Linked DNA regions of Homo sapiens. The protein of the gene in region 4 interacts with the protein of the main gene of each other region in a pairwise test. Each region holds a gene or a part of one and is shown on either strand. Other genes may lie near its edges. The genes, in order: CCT5, PEX7, PPT1 and PIAS1.

What was found.
Region 1: the proteins of PIAS1 (region 4) and CCT5 interact in binary tests that used the Homo sapiens proteins (3 or more experiments, as listed by UniProt).
Region 2: the proteins of PIAS1 (region 4) and PEX7 interact in binary tests that used the Homo sapiens proteins (3 or more experiments, as listed by UniProt).
Region 3: the proteins of PIAS1 (region 4) and PPT1 interact in binary tests that used the Homo sapiens proteins (3 or more experiments, as listed by UniProt).

What each region holds. Positions count from the first base shown.
Region 1 is NC_000005.10:10,253,160-10,260,538, reverse strand, and holds part of CCT5 (T-complex protein 1 subunit epsilon), read right to left. Parts: intron 6,395-7,379; coding exon 6,334-6,394; intron 5,866-6,333; coding exon 5,701-5,865; intron 4,585-5,700; coding exon 4,386-4,584; intron 2,429-4,385; coding exon 2,236-2,428; intron 2,154-2,235; coding exon 2,004-2,153; intron 1-2,003. UniProt on the Homo sapiens protein: Component of the chaperonin-containing T-complex (TRiC), a molecular chaperone complex that assists the folding of actin, tubulin and other proteins upon ATP hydrolysis.
Region 2 is NC_000006.12:136,867,251-136,874,629, reverse strand, and holds part of PEX7 (peroxisomal biogenesis factor 7), read right to left. Parts: intron 4,741-7,379; coding exon 4,627-4,740; intron 2,433-4,626; coding exon 2,377-2,432; intron 1-2,376. UniProt on the Homo sapiens protein: Receptor required for the peroxisomal import of proteins containing a C-terminal PTS2-type peroxisomal targeting signal. Specifically binds to cargo proteins containing a PTS2 peroxisomal targeting signal in the cytosol.
Region 3 is NC_000001.11:40,093,933-40,101,662, reverse strand, and holds the start of PPT1 (palmitoyl-protein thioesterase 1 isoform 1 precursor), read left to right. Parts: upstream 1-4,410; 5' UTR 4,411-4,424; coding exon 4,425-4,548; intron 4,549-7,730. UniProt on the Homo sapiens protein: Has thioesterase activity against fatty acid thioesters with 14 -18 carbons, including palmitoyl-CoA, S-palmitoyl-N-acetylcysteamine, and palmitoylated proteins. In contrast to PPT2, PPT1 can hydrolyze palmitoylated proteins and palmitoylcysteine.
Region 4 is NC_000015.10:68,084,936-68,092,314, reverse strand, and holds part of PIAS1 (E3 SUMO-protein ligase PIAS1), read right to left. Parts: intron 6,010-7,379; coding exon 5,565-6,009; intron 4,471-5,564; exon of another isoform or gene 4,425-4,470; intron 1-4,424. UniProt on the Homo sapiens protein: Functions as an E3-type small ubiquitin-like modifier (SUMO) ligase, stabilizing the interaction between UBE2I and the substrate, and as a SUMO-tethering factor. Catalyzes sumoylation of various proteins, such as CEBPB, MRE11, MTA1, PTK2 and PML.

The DNA.
Region 1 (7,379 bases), on a different chromosome or scaffold from region 4:
ACCCTATTGTTACAGTGAGGCAAAACCCACAGAAACGTCAACAAAGCTAACACCCTTCCCCAACCATGGGGAAATGGCTAACAGCTCTGTCCTGTCACAAACACCTACAGAGTAGTTTCACCTGAGTATGTTTTAAACAAACAATGTTATGAACCACTTGCAACTTGACTGTCTCACCTGAGTGGACAATCCTCAGTGGATCCATAAACTAATTCGGGCACTCACAGAGGCAACCCTGCTTCCAGTAAGAAGCACCCTCACCCCGACCTGCAAATGGCAAAGTCACTTTTCCCAATTAGGAGGGCAACGATCAGGCTGCCCACCCCACCTCTGGTGCTCACCTGGGACTGCCACACCGTGCCCCACAACTCTGGCTTACCTGTCTCCATCAGGCCTCCCAGGCTACCTGCTACTGCCTGGCTCTCCCTCTCTTCCTTCCCTGACCCTCTGGAACTCAGTCCAGAACAGCAGCCTCCTTATACAATCTCTCCGTCACAACCCCGGAAAACCAACCTGCCCCTGCAACCCTCCTCAGATGGCAGCTGCTTTCCCTCTCACATGCTCAGAACAGGAGAGGGTCCTTCTTGCTCCTCAGTCACCTGCAGTGTTCCTCTTTGGGTCCCTGCCTCTCATTCTTTAACATTTTACTATCTAGCCCCATCGTCATTCCCTTCTCATTCTCAGCAACCTGCGCCTCACCAGCACGATCCAGTAACATCCCTGGCCTCTCAATTTATCTGTGGCCCCCCAGCACAGCTGAGGCACCATTCTCATGAAAACTGTCCCACCGGCCCAGATGATGGCCTTTTATTTATAAGCTCCCGCCAGCATGCTTCAATCCCTGAGGCTGGCTCTTCCTTGTACAAGCCAACAATGTTCCTGGCTCAGGAGCATCCCCATCTGTCCTCAGCCTGGAATGCTCCTCCCCCAGGGGCACTGCTCTCACCCTATGTTGGCCTCTCCTTACAGGTCACCTCTCTGACCAGTGTCTGTAATGGAGCTGTACCCACCTTTCTCTTATCTGTGTCTCAAGAGCACGAGCTTGGCTTCATTCCCTGCTGTACCTTTAGTGCCTACAACAGAGCCTGGTATGTCGTAGGCACCAAGAACCGTATCATCAATGAGTACATTCAACAACTTTCCCAAGAACAGACATGAAAATAGTCTCTAGTTGGTTTGCTATGATAAATAATACCCTAACCAACCCACGTTCCTGTCTTCTTGAGTACTGGTGTTTTCAACTCCCAAGGACGCAGCCCCCAAAGAGGAGTTGCTATGTCAGAGAGAAAGCACACCTACGCTAAGGTATTCATGAACCCAAACTAGACTTAACTGAGCAAAGAACTGGGATTACTATGAGTGCATTCTGGTTTAACTCCAGTTACTCATTAACTCTTGCCTAAAAGGTATAGTCAGAAATCTTAAAGGCAAGGTAAGCTAAGTTAAATTTGTCCAGGACGGCAAATATAATATGTACAATTGAAAGCACGGCTTTAGGTAACAGGGTCACTTCTTTCAGGACCCTGAACACACTACCATTTTTTTTGAGACAGAGTCTTGCTCTGTCGCCCAGGCTGGAGTGTAGTGGTGCAAGCTCAGCTCACTGCAACCTCTGCCTCCTGGGTTCAAGCGATTCTCCTGTCTCAGCCTCCTGAGTAGCTAGGACTATAGGTGCCTGCCACCATGCCTGGCTAATTTTTTGTGTTTTTAGTAGAAATGGCGTTTCACCGTGTTAGTCAGATGGTCTCGATGATCTCACGATCTGCCTGCCTTAGCCTCCCAAAGTGCTGGGATTATAGGCATGGCCACTGCACCTGGCCTGAACACGCTACCATTTTAAGACAAAATTAGAATTCTTCCCTGTTTATGCCTTTCTATGCAATTTGGTTTTTTCCTGTGTATGTTTTAGAACTGAAGAAAGACTACACATATTTACTAACCAAACCTAACTAACTGTACCCTTTGGGAGTTTAAATTCCACTGAGGACTCTGGTAAGACTTACTTGTTGAATCATCTCTTCAAATTTCTCCTTTTCGTATTTCTGAAGGGCTTTATAATCTTCGACAGAGGTCACATCCAGCTTATGCTTTGTTTTTGGTTTGGGTGGTTCAAATGGACATGTGAGAATTGCAATCTTCGCATCTTCCACTTTCTATGGGGGAACATAAAGACATTTTAATTGGTGGAATTAAGAGTTAACCAACAGTGCGAAGCTGTGAGATGCAATGGCTCACTTTTGGCATCTGTGGGTGACTGAAATCCTTGTCCACAATCACGCCCTTAATCAGTTTAGTGTCCTCCAGCCTGCCGCCCACTTTGCCTTCTACTTTGATAAGCTCAAAGTCAACGTCTCTCCGCTCCATATCTGCTACAGTGAGGACGGCATTCACAGCAATCTCAGCCATCTGTCGGTGACAACTGTTGACCCTGAGGAAAACACCACAAAACAAACTTCATTGGTTTCACAATTACTGCAACCAAAGCAGGCCACATAACACAATGTTACTCAAAGATATAAATCAAACGATGTTTTGAGTCTTCTAGAGGGGAATGCCATCTCAACCTGCATTTTCAACAGTCTGGGGCAGATTCTTAACCTGTGATCCATGGGCCCTAAAGGGGACTGTATACTTAGATAGGAAAAAATTACATCTTTATTTTCGCTAACTCTGAAATTTACTATTTCCTTCCATTATGAATGTACTCAAGAAACCACTGTAGTCTGGCATGAATTAAGGTCTTCTTAGAATGCAGCACTTTTACAGAATACTGTTACTATTTTACAAGTTCAGAACAGAATGGGAAAGGTAAGTAATCACTCAGGAAGAGTCACTCTTATCTCAATGAAGTGTAGCACTAACCAGGAACTGAAAGGACTGGACAGGGCATTTAAACTTTCCAAGAATTCACCACAACATCCATTATAGATGGAGGGTGTTACCTTTTTGAAAGCTTTGAAACATGTGAATAGACAGTTCAATAAATTAATTTTTGAGCCAAGAAAAACAACTAGGGAAACCTAGCACTTGAAATAATGTCTGAAATCACAGGTTATCTATAAAAGAGAACCATGAAAGTAAACATGTTGTATCTTAAGTAGATGACTTAATACTTGCAAACAGAACAAGGCCAACTTATAAAGCAACAAGAAAACTGATTTGTACACTTCAAGTAATGATGATGTCCTCCTTTCATGAGAAAATAAGTGTTATACTTGTGACAAGAGGCTACCCCTAGGGTACTCACTCTTGCCTAGGGAGCTAGTCTCTGCTGAGATCTGTGGTTAGAGGAGGACAGCAGGCATTGCTGAAGGCTTCTGCTCTAACATAGGCTTTGCTCAGGGGAAAAGGCAACAGAAGCAGACACTTTTCCTGCATTTTCCCTGACTACTCTGAGTTTAGAAGATCCCTCATTCCTTTTTGCTAAAACCACCACAAGCACACAATTGAAAACATCTCTCACTGATTTAATATAATGTAATAAAGCAGCTTACACTGGATTTTTATGTTATATTACGGCAACAGACCTTAAGTCTTTGGCATTGTACATAATCAGCGCACCCCTTGGCTGAGGTTGCTTAGAGTCTCCTGGGAGAAGAGCTGTGTCTTAGTGCCCATAAGACCTGGCAGTAAGCCTGGCAAACGGACATTACACGAACGCTGAAAACACCAGAGACAAGTCGCTTTCAAGACTCTCTTTACTAAATTATAATTTTGGATCGGCAATTTGCTGAATAAAAAGTGGAACCCACCCCCAATGGCTCCCCAGCAAAGAAATTATAGAAAGAAGTGTTAAGAAAATTCACATATCCTCCAGGTAGGACCCTTTCTAGTTGACTTTTTTTTTTTTTTGAGACAGGGTCTCGCTCTGTTGCTCAAGCTGGAGTGCAGTGGCATGATCATGGCTTGCTGCAGCCTCGACCTCTCACCTCAGCCTCTGGAGTTGCTGAAGTGTGTGCTACCATGCCTGGCTAGTTTTTTGTTTTGTAGCGATGGGGTCCCACTACATTGCCCTGGCTGGTCTTCAATTCCTGAGCTCAAGCAAGCTACTGCTTTGGCCTCCTAAAGTGCTGAGATTACAAGTATGAGCCACTGCATCCAGCCTTAGCTGATTTTTAACACAACCTATTCTGCTAAATTAAAATAACTATATTTTGCAAATATTGTCAAGGGGATTTATACCTGAACTTAGAAATTCAGTTCTCAACTTAAATACAAAATGCATCTGTCTACATCTACATTAAAAACAAAGCAAAACCAAGTAATCAAAACAAATAATCAAATCGATACAAATCCACCAGTGGTCATTTTGTGTTGCCTTTAAGAAATGGCAAACAAACTGCCTCCTCTACAAATGGGTAATCATATCATCTACTGAAACGTACACTTTGGAGCCCAGCGTGGTTTTTGCTGTCTGAATCAGGGGTTCGGTGTCCTTTATGTCAACAAGGACGCTATCGCTGATCTTGTCCAGGTGTTCAATAGCAACACGAGCAGCCTGCTCATAGCCATCGGCTATTCTGATTGGGTGAATGCCTCGGTCTAGCAATTGCTCCGCTTCTTCTAACAAGGCACCAGCCAGGACTGCAAATAAGCCAGCAGACAATCAGTTCAGGCAAACAACAAAACTTCACTTTTAGTATAATCAGCACAAGTTAGATGCTATCATGGAAAGAAGCAGCTTCTAGAATTAAGCTGCAAGTCATCTTAGAGGCAGAAGCCCTCTATTTTTAAAAGAAAGCCTCGTTTTAGTTCTAGCGAAGGTCGAATAGGACATGTGTCCCCTTACAGATGAACATTCAACCCTCAGTGATGTGAAGAACGTAACTAAAGAATATAATGTAAAAAGAACATTTTTCTAAGAGGTAAAAAGCTATTATGTTTCCTGGGCCAGGGTCTACTCAGTGAAATTCAGCCTGGTGATGAGACTAAAACGTGTTTATTATTTATTCCCCCCACCCCCATCCTCCTTTCTCCTCATTTTAGGGTCGCAAAGATGAATTTTGTTTAAATCTACAGCTCTCCAAGCGCACCGAGAACAGTGCTTGGCATACAATAGTATCCAATAAATATTTGTTGAATGAATTCAAATTTCATCTGCAGAAAAGGTAACCTTACTGATATTTTGTCTTCAATCTCCCCAACTTTTTAAAGATTTCAAATCTTCAGAAAAAAAAGGTACAATACTAAAACGAATACCAGTTTACTTATTAACATTTTGCCACATTTTCTCTACATGTACATACTGTTTCTGTTCAACTATTTGAGAATTAGTTACAGAAACCATGACATGTCACTCCTAAGTATTTAGGTATACAGCTGAGAAGAAGGGCATTCTCCTACACATCTGCAATATAATGGTCACAGATCACTCAGGAAACTCAGCATTGCAGTACATGATCCAAAATCAAATTCTTCCACGTTTCCCAAACATCCTTTATAGCTTAAAAGACAAGCAAAATCAGTGTCCAATCAATCATTACACATTTCTCCATGCCTAACAATCCCCAGCCCTCTTTCTGTTCTTTTGTAACACTGTCAGTTTTGAAAGTCCGACATTTGTTTTGTAGCATGTTTTCAACTTGGATTTGTCTGTCTCCTCATGCTCTGATTCAGAGACAACAATCTCAGCAGGCATGTTAGCCCTGTGGTCTTAAATGACGTCTCTTAAATGAGAAAGGATGTTTTGTCTTTTCTTACCAACCACTCCTGTGGTTCCATCTCCAATTTCATCATCCTGAGACTTGGACAGTTCCACCATCAGCTTGGCAATCTGATGATCAACATCCATCATGCTTAAGATGGTGGCCCCATCATTAGTTACAGTCACATCTCCATCCTTATCCACCATCATCTTATCAAGCCCTAAAAAACAACGTTTAGTAGGCTTTGCGCAAAAAACTGGCAACCAATATCACAAACTATAAAACAAGACCTCCTGACCCAGCTCTTATCTGTGCAATTTATTATATACAAATAATGCAACATACACAAAATAGTAGCTGCATGAAGGCATTTTTAGATTGGCTAACATAATTGGCAAAACATTATGGAGCATCATTAAGTATAATGTTAATCTCAAAAGACAACTATGATTTGGAAAATGCTAATGAAATGATGTTACATGCTAAAAAAAAAAAAAAAAAGGTCCGACCTAATATTGCACACGATTATAACCATGTTTAAGAAACCTGAAATACACTAAAAAATTTTGGCTGTGTTAAGGAAGTAAGATGCCTCCCCTCAATACTCCACCTTTCTGTAGAGAGGTTTATATTGACAGTTTTATAATTTAAATCTTTTGCTAAAAAACACGGAATGGTGGACTCTTACCATTTGGTCCAAGTGATGTTCTCATTGTATTTGCTACAGCCTTTGCTGCCATTATATGAGACTAATGAAACAAACAGAAAAAGCAAACACTGTTACATATAATTTCAATGGTTAAAAGCACACATCTGATGACTACAAAAATCACTTATGACTTAGTTTCTATTGTCTAGAAGCTTCTACATTTAAGGGGCAACAGACAGGTTTAAGTATTATAACATTTACGACTCCAGTTTTAATAAGCAATTCTTACGTAAAGAAAGAGAACCAAGTGCTTTGTGTTATCTCACTGAATTTTCAACACATTAATGAGACAGATTCTTTTACCAGCCCATTTACAGCTGAGAAGAGGGACAGTATGACTATGACCTTACAGGCGTTGCAAGACCACTGTGCAACACAGTCCTCCCTGAGCATCCATGGGGAATTGGTTCCAGGAGCCACAGTTCTCCCTGAGCATCCATGGGGAACAGGTTCCAGGAGCCCCCGAGGATACCCAAATTCACAGATGCTCAAGTCCCTTGCATCTAGGCTTGTACATCTGCGGGTTCCCCATCTGCAGACAAGGAGGGGCCTGTACTCATGAGAAACAGTCCAACTGTAAACATACAACACCTTACTGTCACACTATGATTTACTGCAGAATTGTAATCTTTTGAGCTGGATGCAGTACTAGAGCCTGCAACCCCCCCTACTTGGGAGGCTGAGGCAGGAGGATTGCTTGAGGCCAGGAGTTTGAGATCAGCCTGGGAAACATGGCGAGACCCCATTACAAAATAAAAAGAAAAACTGCTCTTGCTTTAAAAATCTTCCTCCACCCACCTGAAATCCCAATAATTATATTTATAGATCAAAGTTACTGACTGGCCTTTTTTTTTTTGAGACAGTCTTGCTGTGTCTCAAAAAGGCTGGAGTGCAGTGGCATGATCTCAGCTCACTGCAACCTCCGCCTCCCGGGTTTAAGCGATCCTCCTGCCTCAGCCCCCCAGTAGCTGGGATTACAGGCACGCGCCATGACGCCCTGCTCATTTTTTTTTGTATTTTCAGTA
Region 2 (7,379 bases), on a different chromosome or scaffold from region 4:
TGGTATGATTTTAGCTCACTGCAATCTCTGCCTTCTGGGTTCAAGCAATTCCACCTCAGCCTCCCAAGTAGCTGGGATTACAGGCACCTGCCATCATGCGTGGCTAATTTTTCTATTTTTAGTAGAGACAGGGTTTCACCATGTTGGCCAGGCTGGTCTTGAACCCTTAACCTCAGGTGATCTGCCCACCTTGGCCTCCCAAAGTGCTGGGAATACAGGCATGAGCCACTGTGTCCACCCACTTTACAGACACCTCTACGAATAAATTTGAAAACCTAAAAGCAAGGGACAATTTCCAAACTTGATCCCGTTAGAGATACAAAGTTTAAACAGACTCACTTCCATGAAAGAAATGAAGTTATCAAGAAAGTACTCCACAAAAAGCACCATGCTCCACTAGTTTTGCAGAGCAATCCTACAAAGGATTCAAAGACCAAATAGCCTCAATGCTGTACAAGTTGTTCCAGAGCTTTGGAAACAAAGGAAAATTTCTTAATTCTTTTTATGAAGCAAGTAAAACACAGACACATTAAACAAAACGAGAAAAGAAAGAAAACTGCAACTAATATCACCTTTGAATATTGACGCAAAAGCTTTAAATAAAATATTAGCAAACACAATTCAACACCATGGTGAGAAAATGATACACAAAGAACGTGAGAGACTTACTCCAGGAATGCAAGGTTGGTTCAATCCATTAATATAATACATCATAGCCATATCTCTAAGAAGAAAAATCATGATTATCTCCATAAATGCTGGGAAAAAAAGCCTTCAACAAAACTTAAGACCCATTCCTAATTAAAAAAACTCAAGAAAATAGGAATTCATGCATACTTTCTTAGTATGACAAACAAGTAAACATATATAATTTGCATTAAAGTCAGAATCTTATTTTTAATAGAGAAACACTAAAGGCGTTTGTACTCATATCAGGAATCAGACATTCTCTATAAACTATTTAGCACTGTATTAGTGGTATTTGTGGAGGGAATTTTAAGAAAAATCAATTAGAGGCATCAGAATTGGAAATGAAGGTGTAGAACCACCTTTATTTGCAGGTGATAAGATCATACATCTGGAAAACCTTAATGAATCAATGATCTTTAGAAGGCAGAGAAACAGGTACTCTCAAACATTGCTACTGAGTATCAAAATTGGCATATTCCTTATGGATGGGAATTTGGTAATATCTAACAAAACTACATATGTTTACCTTTTAACTCAGCAATCCCACTTCTAGGAATACCAGACATTAATTCTCTAGTAACACAAAGCTATCATTCACTGTGGCACTGTTTATTTACAAAACATTGAAAACAAGCTAAATGTCCATAGATAGGAGGGTAGCCAAATAAACTATAGCACATCCACACAATGGTGTATTATGCAGAATGAGAATGATCTCTTTGATACAGAATGATTTCCAGGATATATTTTAGTGAAAATCCTGGAAACCTTTCTGAATATATCTTTATGTACATCTTGACTTTTGAAACCATGTCAATGTTTTGCCTAGACAAAATCAACAAGGATGGGAGGAAAACCCTAAAATTGAATACAAACAGAAACAAAGGAATCAAACCATGTTTCAAGTGAATAACATAACCACACTCTAACAGAGAAGAGGAGAATTAACCTAAGTAACTTCTGAATATAGTATTCAAACTAAAGACAAAAAAAACTCTAAGCAAGTGCTGAGCTCTAATTAGTAAGATTGTTTTTTTCAAAGGTATGGCTTTGCAATTCTGAACTACTTTCTAAGCATTACAGGGTTTAACACATAAGAAAATATATTGTGAATAAAATGGAAGTCAAGAGTTACAAATTTGGAAAGGGAAAATAAATCCTCTGTGGTATGGAACTGTAACTGGAAGTATAAATAGAGACCCACACCCACACACACTCTTATCTAGATATCCATGCACATATATACACATACATGTTCATATATCTACATTCACAAAAAATCATACACTCATGTTCATTGTTTTTTCATCTAAGCAATCTTAGCCTTACGACTCATATAATTAGACCTGAAGAAATGCAATTTCCAAATTTCTATATCTAAATTTAGAATATATTGGCTATGCCATCTATAGTGTAGGAAAGTGTTACCATAGGAACATCTATTAGAAAAGATGGCTTTTAAACAGAATAGCCAGGCTAATATTTGAAGAGAAAAAATTTACTCATATATGTGACTGGATCACGAAAACAGGAAAAATATAATATTAATCCTAGTAAATATTTAAATGTACCCATCTCAGATTATTTTCATGTTAGTAAGAGTAATCATATTATCTCTTATAAAAGTTGCAAAGATGCAAATGTTACCTGGTATTTCACAATGAAATGTATTAAAAACCACTGTACCTTACAGTAAAATCATACGAGCAAGAGGCCAGCACAGAAGCATGAAATGGTGAAAACTACAAAAAAAAAAAGAAAAAAAAAACCCTTTTTGAAGTCAGCTGTGATTATAACACTGCTTTCTATGATCATTCCATAAACATTATAATAAATTTAAGTTGAGTCAGAGCTGTCACTTAAAATTATGCTTTTTCAAAGCATATATGCTATAATTTGAGGCAAAAATCTTCTGGCCTTATAAGTATCCATCTTCAGGAAAAATATTTTTACATTCTCCAAAGAAAATTATCCCTCAAGCTTTTTAGAACTTATTTAGAATAAAATATTCCCAAAATGTTGCTATTCTGGAAAAATTAAATACAATTTCATATTGGCTATCCAAAAATGATTCTTACAGGCCAGATGCAGCAGCTCACACCTGTAATCCCAGCACCTTGGGAGGCTCAGGAGGGCAGATCACCTCAGGTCAGGAGCTCGAGACCAGCCTGGCCAACATGGTGAAACCCCGCCTGTACTAAAAATACAAAAGTTAGATGGGCATGGTGGCACATATGCCTATAATCTCAGCTTCTGGGGAAGCTGAAGCAGGTGAATTGCTTTAACCCAGAAGGTGGAGGTTGCAGTGAGCCGAGATCATGCCACTGCACTCCAGCCCCGGCGACAGAGAGAGACTCTGGCTCAAAAAAAGCAAAAGCAAACAAAGTAATAAACAAAAATGATTCTTACAAATATAAGGGATTTAAGTATATAAGAGTACAAATATATAATTATATAATTTACCAATTTTACAAATATATGATTGCTATAATCACGTTATCAAAATAAACATTTAAATGTTAAATAAAAACACCCTTAAGTTATTTTTACGTTATTTGTATATTACAGCTAATGGAAAATTATATCAAGGGTAAAAAGCAAGTTTAAAGACAAGTAACGTCTTCTAGATGAGTAATAATGTACTTAATAAGTTGACCTTTGCAATTACATTTCTTCAGTGTTTGTCTTATCGCACTTTAATAGTTAAATACACATATATAACTACATTTGACCAGCACTTAGTTTGCAAAGTACTTTCACTACATTACCTTATTTCATTCTCATAATCACTCTAAAATATACATAGAGCATATTTTTCAACTGCTAAAACTTGTCCAATTAAACAAATTTATTAAAAAATAAAACAGAGCACTGTGTCTCCTATGTTGCATTGCAGCCAGAGAAACTTAAAATATTAACTTAACTAAAAATTTAGAATTTTTGGCCAGGCACAGTGACTCAGCCTGTAATCCCAGCACTGTGGAAGGCTAAGGCAGGCAGATCACTTGAGGTCAGGAGTTCAAGACCAGCCTGGCCAACACTGTGAAACCCTGTCTCCACTAAAAATACAAAAAAATTAGCCGGGCATGGTGGTGCACACCTGTAGTCCCAGCTACTCAGTAGGCTGAGGCAGGAGAACAGCTTGAACCCAGAAGGCAGAGGTTGCAGTGAGCTGAGATCGTGTCTGGGTGACAGGGCAAGACTCCATCTCAAAAAAAAAGAAAAAAAAATTTAGAATTTTTTAAATAGTAGGAATAACATAATTACCTTATTAAAATAATCAATAAGGTACTTTTTTATCCTTAACGTAAAAAAACAAAAGGATGAAATTGGGAGATGTCACTTAATAAGATGTTTTCCACAGTCATTTAGCAGAACCTGCCTAAATATAAAAGCCAGGAAACCAACCTAAGTCATCTTATAACCCAGATAAATTTACTGAGACCATCATTAAAAATTTACCTCATCCTCTGCTGTTCACAGAGTAGAAAACTTTCTATATCCCAAACATCTGTGAACAGTCATGTATGTTATCATGTTAGGAAAAAGAAAGAATTAACCATCTCTTTACATCTGTTTCAACAAAGTAGAGACTCTCGCTAATTAGAAACTTATAAAGAACATAATACTAAAAGTGAATTACTATAGTTAAAAAAATATATTAAAGGAAAAACAGATTGGAGGTGAAAGAATGAGAAAAAGATTTTTATTTAACCTTAAGTATTGAATGTCTACATTGCCCAAATTCATTCAATCATTATTCAAATATTTTTGCCTAATTTTAGCTTTCACTACTAATTAATTGGGTAACAAAAACACATATAAAAAAGAATTAGTAACTCCAATCCCTAAACCCAGAACACTTTTTAATATACACTTCATTGATTATATTTATATAATTTTATTCTACATATAAAAGAAAAGATGAAAACTTACTTTCACCCTCCTAATAGCATAGGTATGACCAAGAAGTTCAAACACTGGTTGTCGTACATTCCTTAAGTCCCAGCCTCTCAAACTACAGTCAACCGCCCCGGTCACCAGCAAATTCTAAAAACAATTCAGAGAAACATAAACTGTGACATCTTTGCAATTAAACAGTATGCAGGCTTTCCTACTAGAAACAACATCTGCTTTCTGATAACTATTTAATATGAACCAAGGAGTCATTTTTGAGAAGTTGTATAACAAGTATAGACAGGAATCAACATAGACATTAATAGCAAAAAACTAATATGACTTGTGAGAAAAAGAACTCAATATGCTTTATGTACACGATGGAACACTACAGACAGCTGGAAAAGGCATAGTTCCAAACAGCATTGTGGATTTTCTAATTCAGCTTTAGAAGCGGCAGTAAATACATAGGGGATTAAAAATTTTATCTGACAAATGAGCCCAGCTTTCTCTTCAAAAGGTTTTCCCTGGAATTCCAGCACCTTGGGAGGCAAAGGTGGGAGGATCACTTGAGGCCAGGAACTTGAGACCAGCATGGACAATAAAGCAAGACCCTGTCTACCCAAAAAATTAGCCAGGCGTGGTAACACACACCTGTAATTTTAGCTACTTGAGAGGCTGAGTGAGGCAGGAGGATTGTGTGAGCCCAAGAGTCAGAGGCTACAGTGTGGTATGATCACCCCACTGTACCTCAGCCTGGATGACACAGCGAGACCCTGTCTCTAAAAAAAAAATAAAAATTTAAAAAAGGTTTTCAAGGCTGGGTGCGGTGGTTCACTCCTATAATCCCAGCACTTTGGGAGGCCAAGGCCGGTGGATCACTTGAGCCCAGGAGTTTGAGACCAGCCTGGGCAACAGTGAGACCTCATCTCTAAAAAACAAACAAACAAAAAGGGTTTCAACATACTCTGAGGTTTTTCCAGGCATTAAAAGGCAAGAGGTCTGTTCATTTAGGCACATCTGAAAAAGCAAAGGCTATGAATTAAATTTTTCCATGTTCTCTAAATCTAAATTAATCATTGTTTCCAACTCTCTTGGACCAAAATTCTTAATACGATATCTAATCATATCCAAGAATGTAATCAAATAGTGGTGAGTCTCTTATCTATTCCGGCTTTACAAATTCTGCTATCTAGAGCCCCAAGTGAACCCAGAGGTCCTGGCTGAATAGGACAAGTGCTGGGTCCACACTCAGTCCACCCCACATAACTCAGAACAGCAATGGATTTAAGTTGGCGCAAAAGTAGTTGCAGTTTTTGCCATTGAAAGTAATGGCAAAAACTGCAACTACTCTTGCACCAACCTAACATTGTCTGACTATGTTGGGCTTTAGTTTAAGCTAATTTGAAGAAAAGTTTCAGTTATTAGAAAATAATTTTTGTAAATCACTCTCAAATGTCTATCAGCATCTTTCTTTAGAGTTCCCAAACATCTAACATACAGGCCATAATTAATTTTCCAATATGAAACATTCATTTATGAGTTTGAAACTATAGTCATCAGCATTGAAATGTTTAGATTGAGTAATATCATTGTATATATACTATATTTTAACTTATTTTACTTATTTTTATTTAAAGAACTCTGCCAATACAATGTTCTTTTAACTTTAATTAATTTAAAACTGGGAAAAAAACAAAGCATACATTTTACCTATTTGTCACGGTCAACAGACCACTTCAGGGACATAAATACAGTCATGCATCACTTAATGATGGGGATATGCTCTCAGAAATGTGGCATTAGGCAATTTCATCTTTGCGTGAACATCACAGAGTGTACTTACACAAACCTAGGTGGTACAGCCTAGTACACACCCAGGCTAGATGAAACAGCCTATTGCTCCTAGGCTACATGCCTGTCCAGCATGTTACTGTACTGAATACTGTAGGCTACTGTAACACAATTGTAAGGCTTTCTGTATCTAAACATAGAAAAGGTATAGTAAAAATATAGTATGGAAGATAAAAAATGGTAGTAGGGTCCTTACCATGAATGGAGCTTACAAAACTGGAAATTACTCTGGGTGAGTCAGTGAGTGAATGAGTAGTGAGTGAATGGAAAGGCCTAGAACATTACTGTACACTAAATTTATTTTTTATTTCCTTTCTTCAATAATAAATTAACCTTAGCTCACTGTAATTTTTTGCTTCATAAACTTTCTAATTTTTTTTAAAGTTTTTTGTTGTTGTTGTTGTTGTTGTTTTGAGATGGAGTCTTGCTCTGTTGCCAGGCTGGAGTGCAGTGGCGTGATCTTGGCTCACTGCAGCCTCTGCCTCCCAGTTCAAGCGATTCCCCTGCCTCAGCCTCCCGAGTAGCTGGGACTACAGGCGCCTGCCACCATGCCTGGCTTTTTTTACTTTTTGACTCTTCATAATAACAAAACTTAAAATATAAACACATTGTAGAGCTATACAAAAATATTTTCTTTCTTTATATCCTTAGTTTATAAGCTTTTTTCTATTTAATTTTTTTTTTTACTTTTTAAACTCTTTTTTTAAAAACTGAGACGCACACATATTAGTTTAGGACTACACTGAGTCAGGATTATCAATATCACTGTCTTCTACCTTCACATCTTGTCCTGCTGGAAGGTTTTCGGGGGCAATAGGAATTTTTCAGCTCCATTATATCTTACGGGCCCTGTCACATATGCAATCTGTCACTGGCTGAAATGTTGTTATGCAGTGCATGACTGTAGTATATTAACACATATTTAATCCATTTCTATC
Region 3 (7,730 bases), on a different chromosome or scaffold from region 4:
GGATTTTGTGGATCTAATTGTATGAGTTTTGATGGAATGAAGGCAGAACTGGAAGCCTTGACATGCTCCAGCCCAGAATCTTCTATTTATTTCCTTGACCACCACTTACTGACATTTAAGATACTGACGTTTTTTTGCCGTGGATACAATTTTAACTTTTTAAACTTTCCTAGATATTGGTTGAAACAGAGTCTGTGAGATAGCTTTACTCCATTTTCTTAATCTAGAAGTCTAATAATTTTTAATGTGTGTATATTTTCCATTTTTATTATAAAAATTGTATATCCTTGCTGTAAAATTTCAAACCAAACACAAGTATATAAAGTAAAAAGTGAAAGTTCCTTGTAATACTGCCCTCAAGAATATTACTTTTAACGGTCTCCAGATCTTTTTAAATATTTATTTTCTTTCTTTTTTCTTTCTTTCTTTTTTTTTTTTTTAAGATGGGGTCTCGCTCTGTCGCCCAGGCTGGAGTGCAGTGGCTCGATCTTGGCTCACTGCAAGCTCCGCCTCCCGGGCTCACACCATTCTCCTGCCTCAGCCTCCCGAGTAGCTGGGACTACAGGTGCCTGCCACCACGCCCGGCTAATTTTTTGTATTTTTTAGTAGAGACGGGGTTTCACCGTGTTAGCCAGGATGGTCTCGATCTCCTGACCTCGTGATCCACCCGCCTCAGCCTCCCAAAGTGCTGGGATTACAGGCGTGAGCCACCGCACCCAGCCTCTTTTTTCTTGGCAATGCTTTGACCTTTCAGTGATAATGTACAAATATATAAATACACAGATGTCTTCTTTAAAAAAAGAACAGCTTTATTGAAATATATTCCACATGCCATAAAAGTCACCCATTTTATGTGTACAAACCAATGATTTTTAGTAAATTTATAGAGTTGTACAACCATCATATATGTATGTACATAAATACATAGTTATTTTCTTATGCCCTGTTTAACTTACTCTCCCAGTTCTAAAATGTACTTACCTACTTACCTATGCCCACAGCATGCCCACATGGCTAGAGGCTGCTTTTCAGAACTCTTGGGTAGTTCTGTTCCTGTCAATTGAGCTACTTGCTTACTAAATGCCTTTGGGCTTATTTTATTTATTTATTAATATATCGGTGATATTTGCTATCATAATTTAGTTAAATTTTTGAAAACATGAAATATGAGCATAAAGAGAAAAGAGATGTTTCTGTGAAAACTAAGTTGAATGCATTGGAAAAGCTTGTTAAAGGCAAGTTGTTAAAAAAAATTGTTAAAGTAACTCTGGGTCGGAAATCTGAGAGTGGAAAGTCTTCCATCTAGAATAATTTCACATCCAAACACTGTGGCTCACACCTGTAATCCCAGCACTTTGAGAGGCTGAGGCGGGAGGATCCCTTGAGCCCAGGAGTTCCAGGCTGCAGTAAGCTATGATTGTGTCACTGCAGTCCAACTTGGGGAATAGAGCAAGACCCTGTCGCAAAAAAAAAAAAAAAAAAAAAAAGTCATCATAGCACTATTCATAATAGCAAAGACATGGAATTAACCTAAGTATCCATCAACAGTAGACTGGATAAAGAAAATGTGGTAGGTATACACCATAGCATACTACACAGCCAAAAAAGGAATGAGATAATGTCCTTTGCAGCAACATAGATGGAACTGCTTAGGTCATTATCCTAAGCAAACTAATGCAGGAAAACAAAACCAAATACCACATGTTCTCACTTATAAGTGGGAGCTAAACATTAAGTACAGATGGACACAAAGAAGGGAACAACAGACACTGGGGCCTACATGAGGGTGGAAATGAAAAGTTACCTATTGGGTACTATGTTCATTATGGCAGTGACAAAATAAAACGTACACCCAACCTCCTTGACATACAACTTACCTATATAGCAAACTTGCATATGTGACCCTGAATCAAAAATAAAAAACAAAAAGAATGTTGGTCTGGCACAATGGCTCACAGCTGTGATCCTAGAACTTTGGGAGGCTGAGGGGGGCGGATTGCCTGAGCTCAGGAGTTCGAGACCAGCCTGGGCAACATGGCGAAACCCTGTCTCTACAAAAAACACAAAAAATTAGCGGGGCATGTTGGTGGTGTGTCTGTAATCCCAGCTACTCGGGAGGCAGAGGCACGAGAATCGCTTGAACCCGGGAGGTGGAGGTTACAGTGAGCCAAGATCACGCCACTGCACTCCAGTCTGGGGGACAGAACAAGACCCTGTCTCAAAAAAAAAAAAAAATTGCATTCAGATTGCTTCACAAGTGTCTTTCAGTTATTGCTCCAGTTTAAAGAAACCTTTAAAGAAATTATAAATAGTTCATTAAAGGCAGGAAACTTCATTGAGCGGGCTATATTCACAGAAAAATCCTGAAACTACTTCAATTTGTAAGTCTTAAGTTAAAATAAAATGCTTATACAATAAGCTTATTTTTCTTAAAACAAAACTGTATACTGTACTGTATAATGCTTTATGATTCTGCATTTTTTTTTCTTTGAGACAGAGTTTCACTCTTGTTGCCCAGGCTGGAGTGCAGTAGCTCAATCTTGGCTCACTGCACCCTCTGCCTCCTGGGTTCAAGTGATTCTCCTGTCTCAGCCTCCTGAGTAGCTGGGATTACAGGCACCCACCACCATGCCCGGCTAATTTTTTGTATTTTTAGTAGAGATGGGGTTTCATCATGTTGGCCAGGCTGGTCTCAAACTCCCAACCTCAGGTGATCCACCTGCCTCAGCCTCCCAAAGTGCGCCCAGTGGATTCTGCATTTTAATCGACTTTTCAACTAACAACTTACCTCTAGTCCCAATGGCATGGAATAGAAGAGATTACAGACCGTGGGTTTGTAATCGACTTTTCTTTTACAACATATTAAGGGCATTTTTCATGTCACTTTATGTAAATTTACCTCATTTTTCTTTTTTGAGAGAGACAGGGTCTCACTGTTGCCCAGGGCAACAGCGAGATCATAGCTCAGTGCAATGGCGAGATCATAGCTCAATGCAGCCTTGAACTCCTGGGCTCAAGTGATCCTCCCACCTTAGCCTCCCCAGTAGCTAGGATTACAGGCACATACCACCACCCCTGGCTAATTAAAAAAAAATTTTTTTTTTGTAGAGATGGGGTCTTGCTATGCTGCCTGGGCTGTACTCTCTTTTTATTTATTTTTTATTCTTATTTTTTGAGACAGAGTTTTGCTCTTGTTGCCCAGGCTGGAGTACAATGGTATGATCTCAGCTTACCGCAACCTCTGCCTCCCGGGTTCAAGAGATTCTCCTGCCTCAGCCTCCTGAGTAGCTGGGATTACAAGTATGCGCCACCACACCCGGCTAATTTTGTAATTTTAGTAGAGACGGGATTTCTCCATGTTGGTCAGGCTGGTCTCGAACTCGCTACCTTAGATGATCTGCCCACCTCAGCCTCCCAAAGTGCTGGGATTACAGGAGTGAGCCACCGCGCCCGGCCCTATACTCATTTTTTATAAAACTGGCCTCATATTATTCCATTGTATAGTGGATACACTCTAATTTCTTTATAAATTATTTAAACTATTTTTTGATGTTTTGTTGAAAAAAAACTTGAGCAGGGAACTGATATTATGAAGGTGGATTGAGGGATGAATGTGGCAATAGAGCATAAAATGAATTAAAGAGGAGAGAATGGAAAAGGAAATGGTTGATGAGAGACCCTTGAAATAATCCAGCTGAGATTAGGCCAGTTAGTGGCCATGGGTTTCCCCCTCACTCTTATGCATCCAACATATGCTTTCGTCCGTCTTGAAGTCCCGACATTTCTAGAAAACACAGTTGTCTTTCTCCTCTCTACCTTAGCTCATCTCAGTCCTTCTGAATTTCATCTTTGCTTGTTGAAATCCTACCTCTCCTTCAATATCCAGAACAAACCCCACACCCTGCCATGATTGGTCCTGGCTGGAAACCGTCCCTCCTTCTTTCTTCCTTCCTCTGTGCATGTTTCTTGCAAAGGCAGTACAGGGCAGTGGTGAAGAGCAACGACTTTGGAACCACCAATTTGCTATCTCTGTGACCTTGGGCACCTTACTCAGTGCCAATTCGCAGTGCCTCAGTGTCCTCACCTGTCAGGGGGAGAAGTGCATACAGCATTGTTATGAAGAGTGAATTAGTTAAAGGTTGTAAGAATAGTGCCTGATAGCATCTGATCAGCACTGAATATATGTTAGCAATTATTTTGATTCACCGCAGAGGGCGGTCTACGAGAGCGCAGAGCCCCACTCGGCCAGCGGGGTCTGGCGGGGGACCTGTCGCGCTGAAAGCTCCAGGGTAGGGCCGACGCCCATCAGGCTGGGCATCCGTTCGGGATGCGCAGGTTGCGATCTGCAACCGGCGGCGCCACGCCCAGGCGGGCGGAGCGCGGTTCCCGGAGTCTCGCGCCCGCGGTCATGTGACACAGCGAAGATGGCGTCGCCCGGCTGCCTGTGGCTCTTGGCTGTGGCTCTCCTGCCATGGACCTGCGCTTCTCGGGCGCTGCAGCATCTGGACCCGCCGGCGCCGCTGCCGTTGGTGATCTGGCATGGGATGGGTGAGTGAGTGAGAAATTTAAAAGGGTTTGGCGATTCTCTCTCTTCCTAGCCTGGGTTCGCATCTGCAAAATGCGGGTGTAGAGGGCGAGGACGTGGTCCCACAGCACGCGGCTGCCTCGACATTTTAGGATTTGAAGGATCTGCATTGGAAAGAGAGAAGGGGAAGGAGCCGTCCCCTTCACTGGAAAGAGAGAAGGGGAAGGAAAGAGAGAGCCGCGCACGGCGTTGAAGTTTTACATGCTGTCCTTGATTAATCCTTACAGTAGTGGCGTCAGGATGCAGCATCTCTCACTTGGTCAGGCTAGGTGAGCTGCGGCTGGCTATATGACTGGCGCATCTACCCTTTTATTTATTCCTTCACACATTGAACAGAGATTTGTTAGGCACCTACAGTTCATTTACAAATTGAGTAACCCTTATCTGAAATGCTTGGGACTGGGAAGCATTTCGGATTTTTTTTTTTTTAATATTTGCATATATACAAGAGATCTGGGGGGTGGGACCCAAGTGTAAACAGGAAATTTATTTATTTTTCATATACACCTTATACACATAGCTGGAAGGTAATTTTATGCAATATTTTAAATAATTTTGTGCAACCCATCACATGAGGTCAGGTGTGGAATTTTCCACTTGTGGCATCATGTCTGCGCTGAAAAACTTTCAGATTTTGGGTTTCCCATTTTCAGATTAGGATGCTCAACCTATATTCATTTAACACAGTTATTGAGCACCTACTAGGTGCTGAGGATACAGTAGGGAACTAAACAGACTAAATTCTTTGTTCTTTTGGAACCTACTCTCCAGTAGGAGAAGCAGATTATAAAGAAATTAACAAGTAAAACATAACATATCAAATGGTGATATGTGCAACAGAGAAAAATATAGTAGGGTGTAGGATAAAAACTGGAGGTGGGGGCTTGCACTTTTAATAAAGCAAAGTTGGGAAAGAATTCATTGAAAAAGTGACATCTGAGTACAAAACTGAGGTAGATGAGGACAGTTGCCATTTGGCTGTCTGGTAGAAGGAACAGTAAATGGGAAAGCCCTGATGTGGAAGTATGTCTGGTGTGTTCAAGGGACAGCATTCAGATCAGCGTGGCTGGAAATGAGTAAGCAAGGGGAAGAAGTTAGGAGTTTAGTTTGGAAGGGAGGGGCAGGTACAGAAGTTATTGGGCCTAGTAAGACTAATGCAGGGACTTTGGCTAGAGTGTCATGGGGAACTTTTTGAGCAGATGAGTGACATGATCTGACACATTTTTAAAGAATCACTTTAGTTGCTGTATTAAGAATAGATCGTAGGGCGTCATGGATGGTCACAGGGAGACAGGTTAGGAAACTATTGCAATAATTTAAACAAGAGATGATGACTTGGAACTGTAGAGTAACAGTAGAGGTGTTGAGAAGTGGTCAAAGTTTGGATAGATTTTGAAGGTGGATTGCTAACAGATCAGACTTGGAATAAGAGAGAAAGAAAGGAGCCAAAGATGACTCCACAGGTTTTGGCCTGAACAATTGGAAGGGTGAAGTTTTCATTTTACCAAGATGGGGAAGCCTGTAGGACAAGCTGACTTAGGGTGGGGGAAAGATCAAGAGTCTGCTTTTGGGCTTACTAAACTTGAGATCCTCATGAGACACCCAGGAGATGTTGTAGAGGCATTTGGAGTGTGGAGTCTAGGACAGAGATACGGGTTGGAGATTTAAGTAGGGAGTCTTCGGCATACAGCTAGTAGTTAAAGGCTAGGTGAGACCACCTAGGAAATGAGCGTACACAGAGGACTAAGCCCTGAGGCACTCCATTCCATTTGGAGGTGGAGGAAATGAGGAGAAACTAGCAAAGGAGGCTGTAACCAAATAGCCGGTGAAGTGGAGGGGTCAGGAAAGCGCAGTGTCCTTGAAGCCAAGTGAAGAAAATGTTTCAGGAAGAAGGGCATGATCAACTGCATCAAATGTTGATAGGTCATGATCAACTGTATCAAATGTTAATGGGTCAAGGAAGATAAAGGCTGACAACTGATTATTGGATTTAGCAATATAAAGATGATTAATCTTGACAAAAGCAGTTTTGGGAGAGTCGTGATAGTGAGATCTTTATTGGGATGGGTTACAGAAAAATATTCAGAGTAATTAGAGTCAGCAAATACAAACACTTGCAAGGTTCTCCAACAGGCCCTGGGGCTACTACAGTGGGGTCAAAAGAGGACACAGGGTAGGAGCTTTGTGTTTTCCCAGAGCTCACAGTCAGTTACAGGGGAGGCAGAGGCAGTTAAGTAACCTACAATTACAGCTCAGTGTGGAGAACGTTGTTTTCAGAGAAATAAAAGGAATAGACAATTCTCTAGGCAGTAGCCTTTTCTTGTTCTAAAATTGGTGCTTAAGCTTTCTCGCAGGTTGAAAATGGAATAAGTAAGTTCAAAATGGGAAATGATCTCAGTCCACTTCTACTCAGTAGCCAGTTTGCTTCCTGTTCCTAGTTCTAGTTCCCTGAAATAGAAGAAACAAGTCTGGGGCTAGGACAAGATGAAGAGGCTCCTGAAGTGCAAATTTAAGGAGGCACTCACTCTCAAATTCAGGGTCAACACTTACATAAACCTGAGAATGAGTGCCTCCTTAAATTTTGTGCCCTAGAGCGGGGGTCCCAAACTCCCTGGGTCTGTGACCTGTTAGGAACTAGCCACACAGCAGGAGGTGAGTGAGCCTGCAGCCTTACCACCATGAGCTCTACCTCCTGTCAGATCAGCAGTGGCATTAGATTCTCAAAGAGCTCAAATGCTGTTGTGAACTGCGCATGTGAGGGATCTGGATTGGGTGCTCCTTATGAGAATCTAGCAAATGCCTGATGATCTGAGGTGGAACAGTTTTGAAAAATTGTCTTCCACAAACCTGGTCCCTGGTGCCAAAAAGGTTGAAGACCGCTGTCCTAGATGCTTAATTTGCCTCACCCTAGTCCTGGCCCTGAAGAGAAAACTTTGCATCTGTTCACCCCAAATATCCCCTGTGATAGGGGAAGGGAATGTGTACCTCTGCTTATTTTTCATTTGTAAATTTGGTGTCTTAATTATCCTATATGGGCTTTTTGGTTTTTTTGAGACAGGGTCTCGTTATGTTGCCCAAACTGGTCTCGAACTCTTGGCCTCAAGCAATCCTCCTGCCTCGTCTTACCAAAGCGCTGGGATGATAG
Region 4 (7,379 bases):
CTGTCGTCCCAGCTACTCAGGAGGCGAGGTGGGAGGATCGCTTGAGCCAGGAAGCGGAGGTTGCAGTGAGCCAAGAATGTGCCACTGCACTCCAGCCTGGGCAATACAGCGAGACCATCTCGGAAAAAAAAAGAAAAAAAATAAGTAACACTCATAGTCAATAATTATTATGCCTCATACCAATCAATGAGAAATCTCTAATCAATAAAGACATATGATGTGAACTTATTCAGATATATTGCCTGAGATATTTAAAAACTTGAAAAGACATCCCCTGAGAAGGTAAAATTTGACTTCAATCTCATATAAAGCAAACAAGATGAGTCACCATACTTTTATATGACTACAGATGGCTCGACTTAACAATTTTCCAACTTCATGGTGGTAAGAAAACAATAGGTATTCAGTAGAAATTACTTCGAGTACCTACACAACCATTCTGTTGGTAACAAAACCATTCTGTTTTTCACTTCAGTACGATATTCAATAAATTACATGAGCTATTCAATACTTAATTATAAAACAGGACTTGTGTTAGATGTTATGTCAGCTAATGTAAGTGTTTTAGACACATTTAAGGTAGGTTAAGCTAACCTATCATGTTTGGTAGGTTAAGTGTATTAAGTGCATTTCTGACTTTGGATATTTTCAATTTATGATGGATTTATTGGGACATAACCAGAGGAGTATCTGTAGTCCAAATGAATGCAAAGCTCTCTGTTCTATACATGTTGGCCTTTGAAATAATTAAAAATATTAAAAATATTTAAAAGCACTATATTAAAAATGTATTTTCTATTTGAAAATTTACCTGAGTCAAGGAAGATATAAATAGCTAAACTAGTAACAAATATAAATCTATTAATAGATTTGTTTATACTTAAGTCTGAATCAAATCAAATACTGTATCCTAAAGAACTATTATTTTATTTACCATGAAAGTATTCTGTGTTTTTGCCATTATGTTCTAACAAAGCCAATTTAAACAATAACTATAAACAATATTATAAACTATTTTGAATGATACAGGTATTATTCTAAACAAAACAATATTAAAGGATTGAGAGGAAATATCAAATAATTATCTTGTCCCTGAATGGACAAGATATTTTAATCCAAAATTATTTTTCCTTTTATTTTCATAATTATGTAAATTTCACACCTCATCAACACCAATATTGGCACACTAAGCAATAAGGTATTTCAAACAAAGTACCCCTTAACACATGTGCTCAACATCCTATCAAGATTAAAATTTTCTTCCATTATTTATATGGATCAATAATACATGCGGCTGCCAGGTTACGTGAGCTAGTGAGGTTCTCCTCTCCTTCAAAATGAAACCAGAAATACACACACACACACACACACACACACACACACACACCCGTAAATGACTAACAAAAAGAATACCACAGAAGTATTTTAAAAGTTTATCTGTAAAGTAAGCAAGTAATTATAATTTCTATGGATTCTACATTAAACATAACATTTTTGTAATTAGGGAAAATTTTTTTTAAATGGAGTATATTAAATTTCAAAGACATCAATTAACCTCAGAGATGACAGGATAGGGCAATAAGAGGAAGAATACCATTCTTCCCTACTCTATTTCCCATCCCTATCATAGCCACTGTTTGTAATTACAGAGTGTGGTATGGCTCAGTTGTGTTTGCAAGGTAAAATGGTTAAAATCCACTGAATTAAAATGAAATAAAAGATTCCATCTACTGCATTAAAACGAGTTGGAGAGCTAATAAATGTTTACTGAACTACCATGTAACAGGTTCATATCTAGCTATTATAGGGATTTATAGATAAATGCCTCAGAAGCCTTATCATTTTGAGGAACAAAACAAAAACATTTAATAAAGGGTAAATTAAATGTTAGGACAGCCTGGGCAACATAATGAGACCTCAACTCTACAAAACATAAAAACAAAAATCAGCCAGGTGTGGTGGTGCATGCCTGTGGTCTCAACTACTTGGGAGGCTGAGTTGGGAAAATTGCATGAGCCAGGGAGGTTAAGGCCACAGCAAACCAAGATCTCGCCGCCACATTCCAGCCTGGATGACAGAGCGAAACCCTGTCTCAAAAAATAATAATAATTATTATTATTATTAAATACAATTTAAGTTGGGTGTGGTGGCTGACGCCTGTAATCCTAGCACTTTGGGAGGCCAAGGTGGGAAGATCACTTGAGTCCAGGAGTTCGAGACCAGCCTGGCTGACATGATGAGACCCTGACTCTACTAAAAATACTAAAATTAGCCAGTCATGGTGGCACGTGTCTGTAGTCTGAGCTACTGGGGAGGCTGAGGTGGCAGAACTGCTTCAGCCGGAAAGACAGAGGTTGCAGTGAGCTGAGATTGTGCCAGTGCACTCCAGCCTGGGCAACAGAGCAAGACCCTGTCTCAAATAATAAAATAAAATAAAATTTAAAAAATAAATGTTATGAGGCCGGGTGCAGTGGCTCACACCTGTAATCCCAGCACTTTGGGAGGCCGAGGTGGGCGGATCAACTGAGGTCAGGAGCTCAAGACCACCCTGGCCAACATGGTGAAACCCTATCTCTACTAAAAATACAAAATTAGTCGGGCATGGTGGCACGTGCCTGTAAGTCTCAGCCACTTGGGAGGATGAAGCATGAAAATCACTTGAACCCAGTGGGGCGGAGGTTGCAGTGAGCCTAGATTGTGCCACTGCACTCCAGCCTGGGCTACAGAATGGGGCTCTGTCTCAAAAAAATAAAAATAAAAAATAAATGTTATGAGAGCATGCAGGGAAAGTGAAATTGATTCTGGCTGGGGAAGAAATGTACAGATGAAAGGAGGACAGCCTAGAAAGATAAATGAAAAAGGTTAAAGAAAAAAAGCATTTGAAATAAGCCTCATAGAAACAAACAGAATTGAGATAATGAGAGGCCAAAGTAAACAATAAATTAAACATCTTACTTTACAACCACCTTTTACTTCACCTCTCAATTCTTACAGTTAATTATGGACAATGAAAAGAATACTTTAATTATGGCTCCAAAATAAAGGCCTTAAAATTATTTTAAATTGTTTTAAAGAAATAACAAAATGATCGTAAGAATGAATGAGAATTACCTAATAAAATGGGAATTATCAGAACTACTGTCTTCCATTTTAGTTAGAAATACAAAACCATGCATAAAAACATTCAGTTTACATTTGAACATCTTAAAATCTGTTTAAATCTAGTGCTTAAGGCCACAATGGAAGGGAAAAAATGAAAAAGTAAATGTGCCTGTCCCATTCTGGACTCAGTGATAGTTGTGATCAACTAGCCAGCTGGTGTTCGAAACTATGTTCTCAAAAACTTGATTTTAAATGTATGTACGTTTAGAAATGAAGAGAATGCTGGAAGCTATTTAATTTTCCAGAAAACGTGGTTTTCTTAGATTTAAAACAAATGAACTACCGGCAAAAATAATCATTTAGGAAACTAAGTTATGTGACAAATGTAGCCACTTCATTTAATGAAGTACAGAAAAAGTCTTAATAATGTTAAAGAATTTATAAAAACAGAGCCTTAAAATATACTCATCCTACACCCTGAAGACTAATTACATAAAATCTTTTTTCAATAAATATTTTTCACATTCAATAAGCATTGCCCTTCAACAAATATTTATTGAGCCAATAAACTTCCACAAATTACTTTGTGGTGAGATCTTTTTATGCATATTAAATTGGTTTGTTTTTAATTCTATAACGATGAGATACTGAAAATCTATTTACATATCACTAAGCAATTCTATACCACCTATTCATTTGGTGACTTTCTGTGAATACATACCACAAACAGCAGATTTATTCATGAAAACTGGCATTCAAATCATACTTCAAATATAGTCAATTATTGCTATTTGTGACATTTATGTTCATAAAATCACCACAAACACTGAATTTGCGAATATATAATCACTGCTACCAGGGGAAGTATAGGGTTAGGTTCCTGCAAGCCCCTGGTCACAACGTTTTCATCAACTGATCAATACATAACACATATGTACACATACATACATGTACACAGACCATATACAGAGATATGGATAGATACAGATATGGCCTTTAATTTAAAATGGGATATATATATATATATATATATATACACACACATAATCAGACAGACAAGAAAAGATGCATATGATATATTATTAAGGGGAAAAAAGGGAAGTTATACAATACTATGTATATGATTCCTTCTGTAAAAAACAAGAAACAATTTGCTTATACTATATATGCATACACACTAAACAGCTAACAAGGAAGGAACTTTGGCAATTCCATTTTTTACAATGAGCATGTGTCAGTTTTATAAGCATACAGTAGATTCTCAAAAAATGTTTTCTTATTATGGCCACTTAAAAAATAAAATAATGTGATACAAAACTCACGTTGTTTGAAAATGACTCCTATAATCTTCGTGTATTCAGATAATTTCTGCTAAATATAATTAAAAACAAACACTTCATATTTCAAAGATAGAATTTCAGTAAACATTTTCAAAATGTTCTCAAAAATTCGCAAAAAATGTTCTCAACACTTGCCAGTCCCCCAAACTGAAATGTTCAATGATCTGTAACAGGGATTCACAAGCTTTTACTATACGGGTAAATATTTTGTGCTTTACAGGCACACATGGTCTCCGTTACACATTCTTTGTTTTTGTTTCTTTCCTTTTTTGTTAATAACTCTTTGGGAATATTTTTCAGATTTCTTAGCTCAGAACCACATAAAAACAGGCCACAGACTGGACTTAGCTTGCCAGCCGTAGTATGCCAACAAACCAGCATTTAGAAGTCTGATATTTTAAATATATTATACCAAAGGCATCAGAGGTCACAACAGTTGAGTTTTATTCTACGTTAAATAAATAAGGTAGCATTATAGCAATTAAAATTACAAGTTGATTAATATATTGAATTCTATATGCTAGACTACAAATCAAATGATGGAACAACACAGTAAAATAAATTTCAAGCACTTATATTATATAACCGTAATCATGAGTGTGCATGTGCATGTGCATGCCTGTAAAGCATGCACTTCTCCACTTGAAAAAAATCAGCTGAAATTTAACTAGCATACATCAAAGCTCAAGTCTCCTTTTATGATCATTAAAACCATTCACTCATTTAAATAATCAAAACTAGTCAGTGATTTGTTTTAGAGATCATCAACCCCTGAAAATTAAGAACTAATCAGAGACTTGTAGTGATTCATTTGGTTTTAATTTAATTTATGAGATATTATAAAATATTAATCAACCTTCTAAAATACTACTCTTTGGAAGTTTATATTCTTGAAACTTTTTAATATTTACTTTGTCAGTAACCATCACTATACTACCTTTTTTCCTGAAAGACAGCTTTTATATATTTGATTTTATCTAAATTTGAAAGATCTTCATTATTATCCAGCTGTTACTATCAAATGAAAATTTCATTATGAATAATAAACTGGGTCAAAGTAAAAGCCTAAAACGAAAATTCATCCTGCAAAAGTAACCAAATACTATCATACAATAATCTTACCTAGACTGGTGGGTTTTATCAGTTCATCCAGTAAATCATAAAATGGTAATTTTTGAAGTTTTATATCCGGATGGACTGGGTGAAGAGCTGATGTAAGATGTGGGAGTTCCAGTTCATGTTTAGGTCCCAGAAGAGAAACAGGGAGTAATGGCGATGATGCAGGGTGACCATCGTAAGTGAGTTGTGGAATGGTAGATGGAGACAAAGTTGCTGGCATAGGACTTGAATGTACGTTGGGGATGGACAAGTCTGCAGGCGTCATGATTTTCTGTGGGAACCGCCGCCTATAGAGTTCCTTAATTTTCATTTGCACAGCAGGACTACAGCCAGCCTTTAGCAAATGCAGGGCTTTTGTGAGAAGTTCGTGTTTGCGTCCGTGCTTGTTTCTCCCGGCGTAGCCCAACAGTACTTGGAGTTCAGAAACTCTAAGGCTCATAACCATTTGCTTAGAGAAAAAACAAAATGTAAAACATTAGTATTCCAATAATATAATTTACACTATTAAATGACACTTTATTATAACCCCCTTCTTATGGTTTACTTAAGCAAATAAAGGCCAGCTCACTTATAATCCTATTATTTCAAACTTCAAATTTAATCATTTAACGTTAAGTAACCAAAGAAATTTAAAATTAATATTCATAAATTCATTGACTTCTACCCTTGGTTATAAGAAATATAGGATAAAGTATACACCAGGGAAAACCACACCTCACTTTATTCCACTGTTTTGATGAAACTGTCAGGTATTTATCAAGCACTTACTGAGTCTCCAGGAGAATGTCGAGTGCTATGTAGATGGCAAAACGTAATGATGTGCTCTCAAGAATATTTTGTTTTCTTGGGGAAGAATTATAAGTATATATGAAACAACAAACAGTCCATCTCAAACACCAGATGTAGGCAGGATATCAATAGCTATTATCAAGTGTTACTTACATTCTGTACTAACTCTGGAATTTGTAGACTTAAGTTACACCTTTTTTGACCAATTATATATCAGATATTCTATTTGATATTTTCACATGGAATGTCATTATCTTTACAACTCCGCAAGGTATTATCCTGCCTGATTTATACATGAGGAGACAAGTTCAGAAAGGTTAGATAACTTATAAAGCCATAAAGCTACTAAGGAGTAGTCAGGATTCAAACCCAGATATGTCTGATTCTAAAGCCCATGCTCTTTCCACTAAACCATTAGGAAAAAGACAGAGCTGGACTCATATTACTGACTCTCACTTAACTTGCAAGGCCAAGCTAGAAGTCCAGCAACCCAATTCATATGCCATAATGCATGAGGCTGCAGTAATCTATTTAACTTTGTTTACCTATGTTCGCAAACTTATTTAGTCCCCCTTTCTCCTTTTTCCCCACCTACTAATAGGAAATGACCATCTATACCAATCCTCCCATTTTAAAGTGGTGGAAAATGGAATCCAAAGAGAAGAAATCACTTACCCAAGATCACACAGCTATTAGCAGAATCCTAAAAGATTGCATCACCACTGACAGGGAGTATTAGGATAAAAAGACACATGTAAGCTTACCATTTGCTCTCTATTTCTCCAACTAATTCCTTCACCTCATACCAAATACACAAAAGCTATGCTTATGCTGCCTTCCCTAACTCACCACCACTCACAATGATAACCCCAGCCAATTCTCTAAGGGTTCTTTGCAGGTGGCAAAACCATTAAGCAAAAAATAAAATACTGAGGAGAAAAGTATATAAAGAGCTTTATAAGCAATATAGCTGGTTAATCAAAGAAATATGAGTCCTTCCTTTACTTCTCTGGCTTGGAAAACTCTTTC